Regions from separate parts of the Homo sapiens genome. Here region 2 is linked to region 1. Evidence: fine-mapped expression QTL. A gene starts in region 1. The other region holds a variant in brackets. All regions are shown on one strand. Distances are from middle to middle.

Evidence for each region. PIP is the estimated chance that this variant, and not a neighbour inherited with it, causes the effect. A credible set is the group of variants that fine-mapping cannot tell apart.
Region 2: its variant is the best candidate, but not a certain one, in a credible set for the expression of SLC60A1 in sun-exposed skin (GTEx, PIP 0.52).

What each region holds. Positions count from the first base shown.
Region 1 is chr1:205,566,608-205,571,974 of GRCh38, forward strand. It overlaps SLC60A1 (solute carrier family 60 member 1), which reads left to right and starts at 2,407. Exons shown (of 10, transcript NM_181644.5): 1 at 2,407-2,692. The coding sequence starts at 2,463. It overlaps SLC60A1-AS1 (SLC60A1 antisense RNA 1), which reads right to left and starts at 2,698. Exons shown (of 4, transcript NR_152721.1): 1 at 2,522-2,698. It also overlaps the pseudogene RNU2-19P. RefSeq lists enhancers at 2,688-3,237, 3,238-3,786.
Region 2 is chr1:205,535,620-205,540,986 of GRCh38, forward strand. No RefSeq gene overlaps it. Among named protein-coding and RNA genes, the nearest start is that of SLC60A1, 31 kb to the right of the region's middle. RefSeq lists an enhancer at 818-1,319. The variant T/C (reference allele first, on the strand shown) is at 2,940.

The DNA of each region.
Region 1 (5,367 bases):
AAGTAATCCAGAGATGATTTAAAGTATACAGGCCTATGGATGTAGGTTATATGCAAATACTATGCCATTTTATATCAGGGACTTGAGCACCTTCAGATATTGGTATCTATCGTTTCTCAGCCTTTTGGCAAGACCAAGTGTAGTATCTGTTCTTATCAGATATTGGTATCTGCAGGCACTCCTGGAACCAATCCCCCCACGGGATATGGGATATGGAGAGACAACTGTAACTTGTTTCCATATCTGCTTATCTCAACCAGAGGACCTTGTACAGTACCAGAACCCAATAGGTCTTTGACTATGAAGAGGCTGAGTACTGTATTCACGGTGGAATGCCTCCCTTTATTTTTACTTACTTTTTATTTTTACTTTTTACCATTTTAATCAAGTATAACTTACACACAAAAATGCACAAATCTTAAATCTACAGACCAATAAGTTTTTACATATATTTACACCTGTGTAACTACCACCTAGATCAAGCTTCAGAATGCTTCCAGCATCCCAGGCACTGGGGGCTACCTCATTGTGGCAGGGTCATTTGTTACTGTGGCTAGAGGAGCTGAGCCAGCAAGGTGCTGTAGTTGGGGAACGCCATTTAGGGAAATTATGGAAGGATTTCAGGTGTTTGGGCTAGAGAAGCAAAATCATTAGGGCAAGGTCATTTTGGGTGTGAAGGACTTACATGACAGAGCAATTAGATTTGTTCTGTGTGGGGCCGTGGGGAGCAGTTACAGGGCGAAGCATTTCAATTTTGCCTAAGACCATTTCTACAACCAGAGCTCATCCACACTGCAAGCAGAGCCCCTAGGAATATGCAAGGTCCCCAGCACTAGAGGTGTCAGTCAAGAACAGGACTGGCAAGCATTCAAAGGCAGTTATGGGGAGGGGATAGGGGACTCAATTGGAGGCTATTCCTTCCAATTCTGAGCTTCTATGGTTCCTGGAGTTCTGTGATAGTGGCAGAGAAGACTCAGTCAAAAACTTGTGGTTATGATTTGTTTGGTGTTTTTTCTTTTTTTTTCCCCCAGAGGGTAGCTTTTCAGTTTATTACAATTACTGTGCAGGCCCCCCATCATCACTATCGAATAAGTACTTGTCATTACCCACAGAGTGATGAGCCAGAGGGACCCTGGGGCTCCCCCTTCTCTGGGGCTCACTGTCCAAGAAGGGATAGGGCAGATGCAGGGGTGCGGCTATGAGATGGGACCAGTACCTGCAAGAGAAATTGGTTGCCCCACCTCATGCCAAGTTGTCTTGGGGACACCCGCCCACATACCTCCTCAGTCTTTTCAGCCCTGGTCCCCCTGGTGGGCCAGTGGAAATGATGTCATGGCTCCTGTCATTACCAGAAGACCTGGGCAGAGGGGACACCGCAGGGCCTTACTGTTCTGCCTCCAGGGGCCAGATCCTGGCTCCCTTAGGAGCGGGAACACACAGAACCCACCAGCCAGCCCGAGGCCACCTAATGAAGGGACAGCCTAGGTCAGCTGCAGGCTCCTCGAAGGACACCCAGTCTAGAGAATAATCAACCCCTACTCACTGCCAGGGATTTATCCATGGAAGAAAGAATTTTCCCCAGAACTCTTTTTAAATTTTTTTTTCTAGGAGATTATTTCAGAATTCCTCCCGGGGTTCCTCCAGGACGCGGCCCTTCCCTCTCTGCCCTCCTCCAACTAGTTAGAAGGAGAGAGAGAGAGTCAGCATAGACCAGCGTCATCCTCCTCCTTCCCGCACCTGGCCAGGTGGGGAGGAGGGCCTCATCTCAGGCCCTTCCAGGGAGCTTAGTGTGAGGAAGATGTTGAGTTTCTAGGGTTCTCCTTCTAAAGGGCAATGTGATTAACCTCTTGGGGTTCTAATGAAAGCCATGCACGAATACTCTCCCAAGGAGAAACATATGTACAACAAGATTTTGCCTTCTGTTCTGGGGGAAAGGGGGGTGCCGTTAGACCCTCGAAGTCCATCTGTGAAGCGCCTAGGTTTAAAGGGGTCCGGGTTTCCTCCACTGCCACAGCCCGGGTGCGGGGAGAGGGCCCCTAGCCTTATCCGGAGATACAGGATGTCTCGGGCTCTCCATCTGCCGGGCTCTAAAATGGGCGCTCGGTCCCTGGGGGCTGCATCCGGAGGCTGGGGGGACTGGTCGAGGGAGAGCGGGCGGGGGGCAGCGCGGCTCCCGGTTGGTCTCCGCAGCCGGGGGAGGGCGAGCATGTGCGCTCGGGTAGGAGGGGGAGGCCGGCGCCTGGCACCGCACGGGGAAGGCGCGGGAGCGGACGCACTGCCCACCCGCCGCAGAGGCGCCCCCGCCGCCGCCCGGGCCCAAGGGCGGGGCCCCTCGCTGGGGCGGCCCCTCCCCGCCCCTCCCTCCCCGCCGCGGGCCTCCCCAGCCCGGCCGGCCCTCCCGCGGGCGGCACTCGGGCACCGGGCTCGCCGGGACCAGATCCGCGAGCCCGTCAGCCTGCGCCATGGGCTGCGACGGCCGCGTGTCGGGGCTGCTCCGCCGCAACCTGCAGCCCACGCTCACCTACTGGAGCGTCTTCTTCAGCTTCGGCCTGTGCATCGCCTTCCTGGGGCCCACGCTGCTGGACCTGCGCTGTCAGACGCACAGCTCGCTGCCCCAGATCTCCTGGGTCTTCTTCTCGCAGCAGCTCTGCCTCCTGCTGGGCAGCGCCCTCGGGGGCGTCTTCAAAAGGACGTGAGTGCCGCGCCCGTGCGCCCCCGCCCCGCGGCCCCCGGCACCCACCCTCGCCGGGCCGACCCTTCCCTCCCGCCCCGCGACCCGGCCTCTCCCCCGGCCCCGTGGGGCTGCCCGTCGCCCCCGCCTCCCGGCCGCGACCACCCCTCCCAGCTCCATCTTGGCCGAAGAGCTGCCTCCCTCCCTCCCTCCCTCCCCCGCAGCTCTCCCTGGAAAACTCTCTCCAGAGACTGAAGGTGACTTCTGGCTTATTTATTTGTCATCACTCATCCCTGTGAGAGGATAAAACCAGTTCCCACCTGCTTCCCCCACCCACCGCCCCGTGGGGAGAGGAGTGATAGAGTTTGCAGAGGTGGGGAGGGTGCCCCTCTTACACAGCTCCTCTGGGGTTTGTCAGTAGCCCCGGCTGCCGGGGGCGGGATTGGCAGTGAGGTGGAAGGACCGTGGGAGGGCCAGCTCTGTGGCGGTGCAGGGTGCTGGAGGTGGCCTGCGGCTTGACTGATTCCCAGGGCCAGGCTCCACTGTAGGCAGCTCCACATCAGCTAACACAGGCTGTCCCTTCCCCCGGGTAGCCACGGGGTTTAGTGGGTTCTGTGTAGCCCTCCTCCTGAGGCAGCCAGAACATGGTTCCTGCATGGGCCCCCGAGACACACAGGACCTCACCGTTAAGGCCAGGTTGGGAGGGGCAGGGCACTTTACCCATAGCTTGGTAAGGTGACTCTCCAGCCCTGGTGCCAAGGTTCCCCTCCACTCCCCACCCACCTCATCCTACTCCTGCTGGGCCTCTGCCCCACGACAGGGCTCTGGACTCTCCCTGGCACCACCCCCAGAAATCCCCCTTTGACACTATTGCAGAGCCTTATTCTCTCGGCTTAAATTGGACAGGGCCACCTCCGGGCTCCCTTGTGGAAAGACAGCCAGATTCACTCTCCCAGTGCAGCATGGAAAACAGAGACCCATAATAGAATAGGGAATAGATGACTTGCAAGCCAGAGGCTGCTGCTTGATTTCCCCAGTCCCAGCTCCTGGCTGAGTGGTTTCCTAGATCCCATGGACTCAGTCGAGCAAGCAGCCGGCCTGGAGAAAAAACCGCAGTTGGGCTATCCCAGAGAAACCTCTGGAGGGGCCGTTCTGGGCTGTGGTCATGCCCTTTGGCTTAACGCCTACAGGTGTTCGTGAGGGCAGGTGTTTCCATCCACCTTGCTTCCAGAGCTGGTGGAAGGAGCACAGGTGTCAGTACAGATGGACCCCACTTTAAGCCTTAAAAACATGACCAATTTTGGAAGCGATTATCCCCATTTTCCCCAAATCTTCTTGTAAACCAAATTATTCTCTTCTTAAAAAGCAAGTCTCCTTGTGTACACCAGTGTTTTGTGGGTGTGGTACAGGATTGGAATATACAGAAGATTCAGAAAATCTTAAGGACAAGCTCAAGATTCATTCTGCCTAGAGGTTTAATTAGAAACTAAGATAAAGTATCTGTGGCTAGCACAGGTTTTTTGGTTTTAAGTACTTTGACTTACAAAAGCTCCTTTACCTGGAACTTTTAAAGAAAATATGTAGTGCAAAGAACACGGAGGGGAAGGAGGATAATTTGAAATGACAGGTTGGCAGGGCAGGGTTTGTGAAGCCAGCAGAGATGCACACCCACCCAGCTGGGCCATCTCTTCCTGGGTAGTTTTGTATCTTCCTCAGCACTGCTTACCCAACAGGGGGCTCTGAACAGGCAGCAGAGAGAACCCTGCAGCAGGAACTGGCTCACAGAAGAGAAAAAAAATCATGGTAACAATGATAACTAACTTTATTCTGCACTTACTGTGTGCCAGGCACTATTCATAGTACTTCACATGTATCAGCCCATTTAATCTTCACAACCACCTTGCGAAGTAGTACTGTTATCTCCATTTTATGCATAAGGAAGTGGAGGCACAGAGAGGTTAAGAAACTTGGCCCACATCACATGGTTGTTAAGAAGAGGCCTAGACAGAATTTGAACCCAGGTGTTGTCTCTAAGACAGATACTTAGGCAATCCCTCTTGCTTTGTGAGTCATCAGTGTAAACTCTGCAGATCAGGCACAGGTTTGGGATGAGTAGCCCTAAGGATGCTCATGGGCTGGGTATTCCTGAGCTCTGACAACTTCTGGGAATGTAATGGTGGCCCTCTGGGGCTTCCTGCTGGGATCTTTTTGGGGTGGGGTAGATCCTATCAGTGGTTGAGGTTTAAATTCTGAACCTCAGTCCTCCCACCCCCAAGACAAAATGCCATGAAGAACTCTTTCCTTTGGTTAAGAGCAAAGCAGATATACAGTGGAAACAGAGGGATGTCCAGGGGTGGCCTTGAGTGTAGGCGACAGTCTCCCACCACCTTGCTGACTCTGGGCAGCTCTCATCACAGTCTCCCATCCCCCCAGCCAGAAGCTCCACCAGCCCTGCAACAAAGCTTTAAAGCTGGATTCTGTGGGACCATGTCTCAGTTAAAATGCAATACCCCTGCAAGCAAGTGCTTTGCAGCTTAAGTGATTACCAGCTAACGCTCTCACTTGGTTTATACTTGTGAGTGGGGGATTGCTTTAACAAATCTGTGAGAGCCAGCTGTTGCGGGGGAGTGGGGGAAAGTTTAGGATGACACATGGGAGAGGATAGTTGGGGGCAGTGTCTTTCTCGTGGGTTCCTA
Region 2 (5,367 bases), 31 kb before region 1:
TCTGGCACTTTGGGATGCCAAGGCAGGCAGATCGCTTGAGCCCAAGGGTTTGAGATCAGCCTGGGCAACATAGCGAGACCCCGTCTCTATTTAAAAAAAAATTAGCTGGGTGTGACGGCTCATGCCTGTAGTCTCAGCTACTCAGGAGGCTGAGGTAGGAGGATCACTTGAACCCAGGTCGAGCCGCAGTGAGCAGTGATCATGCCACTACCATCCAGCCTGGGCAATGGAGTGAGACCCTGTACCAAAAAAAAAAAAAAAAAAAAAAAAAGTGAGCTATGTTGTGTAAGGGGGCCAGGTGGACAGCCAGGGACAGAGTATTCCAACAAAGGCCCTGAGGTGAACGTACTTGAGAATGAGTGAGAGGCAGTGAGGCCAGGGCACAGTGAGCCAGGCAGCATGGCAGGAGGGATGTATCATGTGGGGCAGTGGCTCTGCCCATTAGATCCACCTGGGAAGTGCTTAAGATCCACTGCCATCCGGCCCCAGCTCAGATTGATTCAGATGACCCTAACATGTATCCAGGGTTGAGAACCGCTCACTCGTGCGGGGTCTTGCGGGCTGTGGTACGGGTTCTGGATTTTATTCTGAGATGGGAAGCCACTGGCCTCTGTTTTTAAAGGCTCAGAGGGTCAAATAGGAGATGTCAGCCCCTATAAGGAGGGTGATGGGGCAGGGAGAGGAAGGATCCCCCAGGTGGTGGTAGAGCAGCAGCAGGTGTGGTGGGAAGGGAGAAGGGAAGCACCTGCTCTCCTGTGTTGCTGCGAGAGGGACTGTCATCCTAATCCCAGGGAGGGCCACAGAGGCTCTAGGGTTAGGTGACCTGCATGGCCACACAGGGAGTAAGGTGGACTGTCAATTACAACCCAGGTCAGCCTACCTGAGCAGCTGCCTCCGGGCAGGTGTGGGCACTGGCACGGACACTCCACCTCACTTGTTTGCATGGAGGATGGGCATCTGGTTTCCAGGGACTGGGAAATCCTTGCCTTCTGGTCACCTAAAAGCATTGTCTGACAGGCAGCCAGTTGACACCTGGGGGTTGGGCAAAAGTCACTATCCCCCACCCCACCAAGTGCCCCCTGAGTGATGACTCAGCCCCTCTTCCGGACCCTCAGAACCTCCCACCATCTGCCAACTAAAAGCATCATTGGGCACCAGGGCCCTGCTCCCGCCCTAGCTGTGGAGGCCCGGTGGCTGGCATCATTGCTGATGGTCAGTGCCCAGACTCCAGGGAGTGTGTGCCAATTCTCCTAGACAGGACGGGTGGGGCCAAGGGCAGCTCTGATGAGATTGCAGGTGCCACGTGGCCACTCCCGCTTCCTCCCTTGTTTTCTCCTCTTCCTTCTTCCTGCTTCTTTTTACTTCTCTCAGTGCCCCTTGGGGGCACTAGGTATTACTCAGTGGGCGGCCCTGAGTAATACTGAAACCCAGAGATCAATAATTTGACCCAGCCTCTTGTCTAAGGAAGGAGATTTTGCAGCCTCTCCCTTGAATCAACCCAAGCCTCCAGTCCCTGAGATGTGTTCTCAATGCCAAGCATCAACCCTTGCTCCTGCATCCCTGGGCCCTTCCTGGTGATGTGACGCAAACATGGAGAGCTGAAGCATGGACAGGGCGTGGCAGGGAGGATCCCCGCTGCCCTCCTGCATGTGGTCAGCACTCCTGCTTGCCCCTTTCTGGGCTAGAAACTTCTAGCCCAGTTCCTCATCTTCCTGTCTCCTCCAGAGCTCCTCCCTCCCTAATTTACTCATTATCCATCAGATGGTTCCAGACTCTGTGCCAGGCTCTGTTTTCAGTACCCAGGATACAAACTTGACCCTGACTTAGACCCCACTCCCAGGAGCTCAGCATCTCAGAGGCGGCTAGGATAATCTTTTCTTCCTCTCAGCTTCTTAAGGTCTCAGCTACTTGGGGGAAAGACAGTTGTCCATTAGTCATTCTATTAAAATTTCCTAAGGTTTTTTTTTTTTTCAAGAACAATAAAATGTTTTAATGTCCTCATGTTTTCCCTGGAGGAGAGATTGGCTAAGTCCTAGGTTCCTGGGAAGAAGGAATCTTGAACAACCAGGGAAATAACACACAGGCTCCAAAATCACAGACTTGGATTCAAATCCCAGCTCTACGGCTTGCAAGCTGTGTCACCTTGGGAATGTTCCTTAACTGCTCTGTGCCTCAGTTTCCCTCTCTGTAAAACGGAGATAGTGATAACACCTATTTCACAAGGTTGTGAGGATTTAAGAATGAATATTCAGGCCGGGCGCAGTGTCTCATGCCTGTAATCCCAGCCCTTTTGGAGGCCGAGGCGGGTGAATCACTTGAGGCCAGGAGTTCGAGACCAGCCTGGCCAACATGGTGAAGCCCCATCTCTATTAAAAATACAAAAATTAGCCGGGCGTGGTGGTGGACCCCTGTAATCCCAGCTACTTGGGAGGCTGAGACAGGAGAATTGTTTGAACCCAGGAGGTGGAGGATGCAGTGAGCTGAGATCGTGCCACTGCACTCCAGCCTGGGTGACAGAGTGAGACCCTGTCTCAAAAAAAAAAAAAAAAAAAAAAAGACAAAAAGAGAATGAATATTCAGGAGGGGCCTGACCCAGAGTGCTAGGTGAGTGAGCTTCACATCCTCACTCTGCACACTCCCACCCACTTCTCCACAAGCAGGAATTCCAGCTTCCTCCCTCCTGGAAGTAAAGTGGAAGATCATATGCTTTTATTTCTTGCATTCTTCACTCTTGATAAGATCTCAATCAGCAAGAATGTATTAAGAACATCCTACTTAAAAGATTTTGCAAGACTTTTAAAATGACCTCAGCCCAGAGTTTTTTCTCCACGGAAGCTTTAAACGTAGCTGGGGAAGTAAACATGGAAAGAGAATTTATGATAAAAGGCACTGGGTCAGGCGTCACTCAAAGTGGATCCGCTGCCTCTTGAGGTAGTAAG[T/C]GCTTTGTCCCCCAGACTGGGAAACCACTTGGGAATTCCAGGGGCATCACTGCCTCTGGTATGTCTTGCCAGGTTCCTGAGGAGCCAGCAGCCAGATCTGCACCTGGCCTGACCCTATTCCTTGGATCTTTCTTTTTTGCTGTGCGGAGTAGCAAGGTGTAACTGGCAGATGAGATACCTTCCTCAGAGAAGCCAGAGGAATGTGGCAAAGCATGATCCTGGGCTTGCAAACACCCTTCTCCTTGGATTCCAGGATGCCAGGGGTATCCTCTCAGGCCTGTCACTGGCTTTGAGGCCAGACTTGGCTTTTCAGGACCTGAGACTGATTCTGGGGTGTGGGAATGAACTAATCTGGGACTTTTTTTTCTTTTTTTTGAGACAGTCTCACTCTGTTGCCTAGGCTGGAGTGCAGTGGCATGATCTTGGCTCACTACAACCTCTGCCTTCTGGGTTCAAGCGATTCTCATGCTTCAGCCTCCCAAGTAGCTGGGATTACAGGCATGTGCCACCATGCCCAGTTAATTTTTGTATTTTTAGTGGAGATGGGGTTTCGCCCTGTTGACCAGATTGGTCTTGAACTCCTGGCCTCAAGTGATCCACCTGCCTCGGCCTCCCAAAGTGCTGGGATTACAGTCATGAGCCACCATGCCCAGCCCACAATCTGAGATTCTTAAAGCTCGAGTTGATGAGAGTAGGAGGGCCACCTCAGGGAACAGGAGATGGGGCCAGAGGTTAGGGCTCAGTACTGTTTCCTGCCTTGGGCAGATGCCTTGAGTGGGTACCTTCAGCCACCTGTGATTCCACACCTCCAGCCAGTGTTCCACTTGGTAATGGAATTTACTGCCTGGCTTCTCTGTAGAAGATGAGTGGGGGTGGGGCGAGGTTGAGATTTATAAGCAATAGAGGCAGTGCTGTGCCAGGCTGCCTCAGCCTAAGTCCTGGCACCACCACATCCTAGTTGTATGAACTTAGCCACATCGCATGGCTTCTCTCTGCCTCAGTTTCCCCACCTACAAAATGGGGTGATCATAGGATGAGTGTGGATTAAATGAATTAGTACATGAAAAGCACGCAGAGCCCAGGCACGGTGGCTCACACCTGTAATCCCAGCACTTTGGGAGGCCGAGGCGAGCAGATCACAAGGTCAGGAATTCGAGACCAGCCTGGCCAACCAACATAGAGAAACCCCGTCTCTACTAAAAATACAAAAATTAGCCAGGCATGGTGATGCACACCTGTAATCCCAGCTACCCAGGAGGCTGAGGCAGGAGAATCGCTTGAACTGGGAGGCGGAGGTTGTGGTGAGCCAAGATTGCGCCACGGCACCCCAGCTTAGGCAACAGAGCAAGACTCCGTCTCAAAAAAAAAAAAGAAGAAGAAGAAGAAGGAGGAGAAGGAGGAGGAGGAGGAGGAAGAGGAAGAGGAAGAGGAAGAATAAGAAGAAGAAGAGCACGCAGAATTTACTGGTCATGTAGAAAGCATTACACAGTGTAAGCTGTTGTTATGTCATCTTTCCCTGAGGGTAGAAGCAGGCATCACCCACCTTCTCTGTTTCACTGTGAGGGCTGTGACCAGGAGGCAAAGGCTTCTTACTAAAAGGAGGAATGGTTCCGTGGGGCACACAAGTGAATAAAACCCTTTCTGTCTATGGAGAACTACCTGTCCTCCCAAAATGCCATTAGAGTTTGGGAATTCTGGTGTCCCTTACTCTAACAGATACCGATGTTAGGCAAAAGGCTATGAACTTAACAAACATTACCTAAATTTTAAAACTTTTTAAAAGTTAAGAGACAAATCTTTTGGGGGCCAGGCACGGTGGCTCACGCCTGTAATCCCAGCACTTTGAGAGGCCGAGGCAGGTGGATCACCTGAGGTCAGGAGTTCAAGACCAGTCTGGCCAACATGGTAAAATCCCGTTTCTATTAAAAATACAAAAATTAGCCGGGCATGGTGGCATGCACCTGTAATCCCAGCTACTCAGGAGGCTGAGGCACAAGAATTGCTTGAACCCGGGAAGCGGAGGTTGCAGTGAGCTGAGATGGTGCCACTGCCCTCTAGCCTGGGCAACAGAGTGAGAGTGTCTCAAAAAACAAAGAAAAAAAAACTCCCTGGGTCCAGGTCCGGTACTCACACCTGTAATCCCAGTGCTTCAGGAGGCTAAAGCGGGAGGATTACTTGAGGCAAGGAGTTCGAGACCAGGCTGGGCAATATAGCAAGACCTTGTTTCTACAAATATTTAAAAAGTAGCCAGGCATGGGGGTGCATGCCTGTAGTCCCAGCTACTCTGGAAGCTGAGGCAGGAAGAGCGCTTGAGCCTAGGAGTTTGGGCTGCAGTTAGCTCTAATTGCACCACTGCACTGGAGCCTGGGCGACAGGGCAAGACCTTGTCTCAAAAAAAAAAAAAAAAGTCTCCTTGGCTTAGACCACT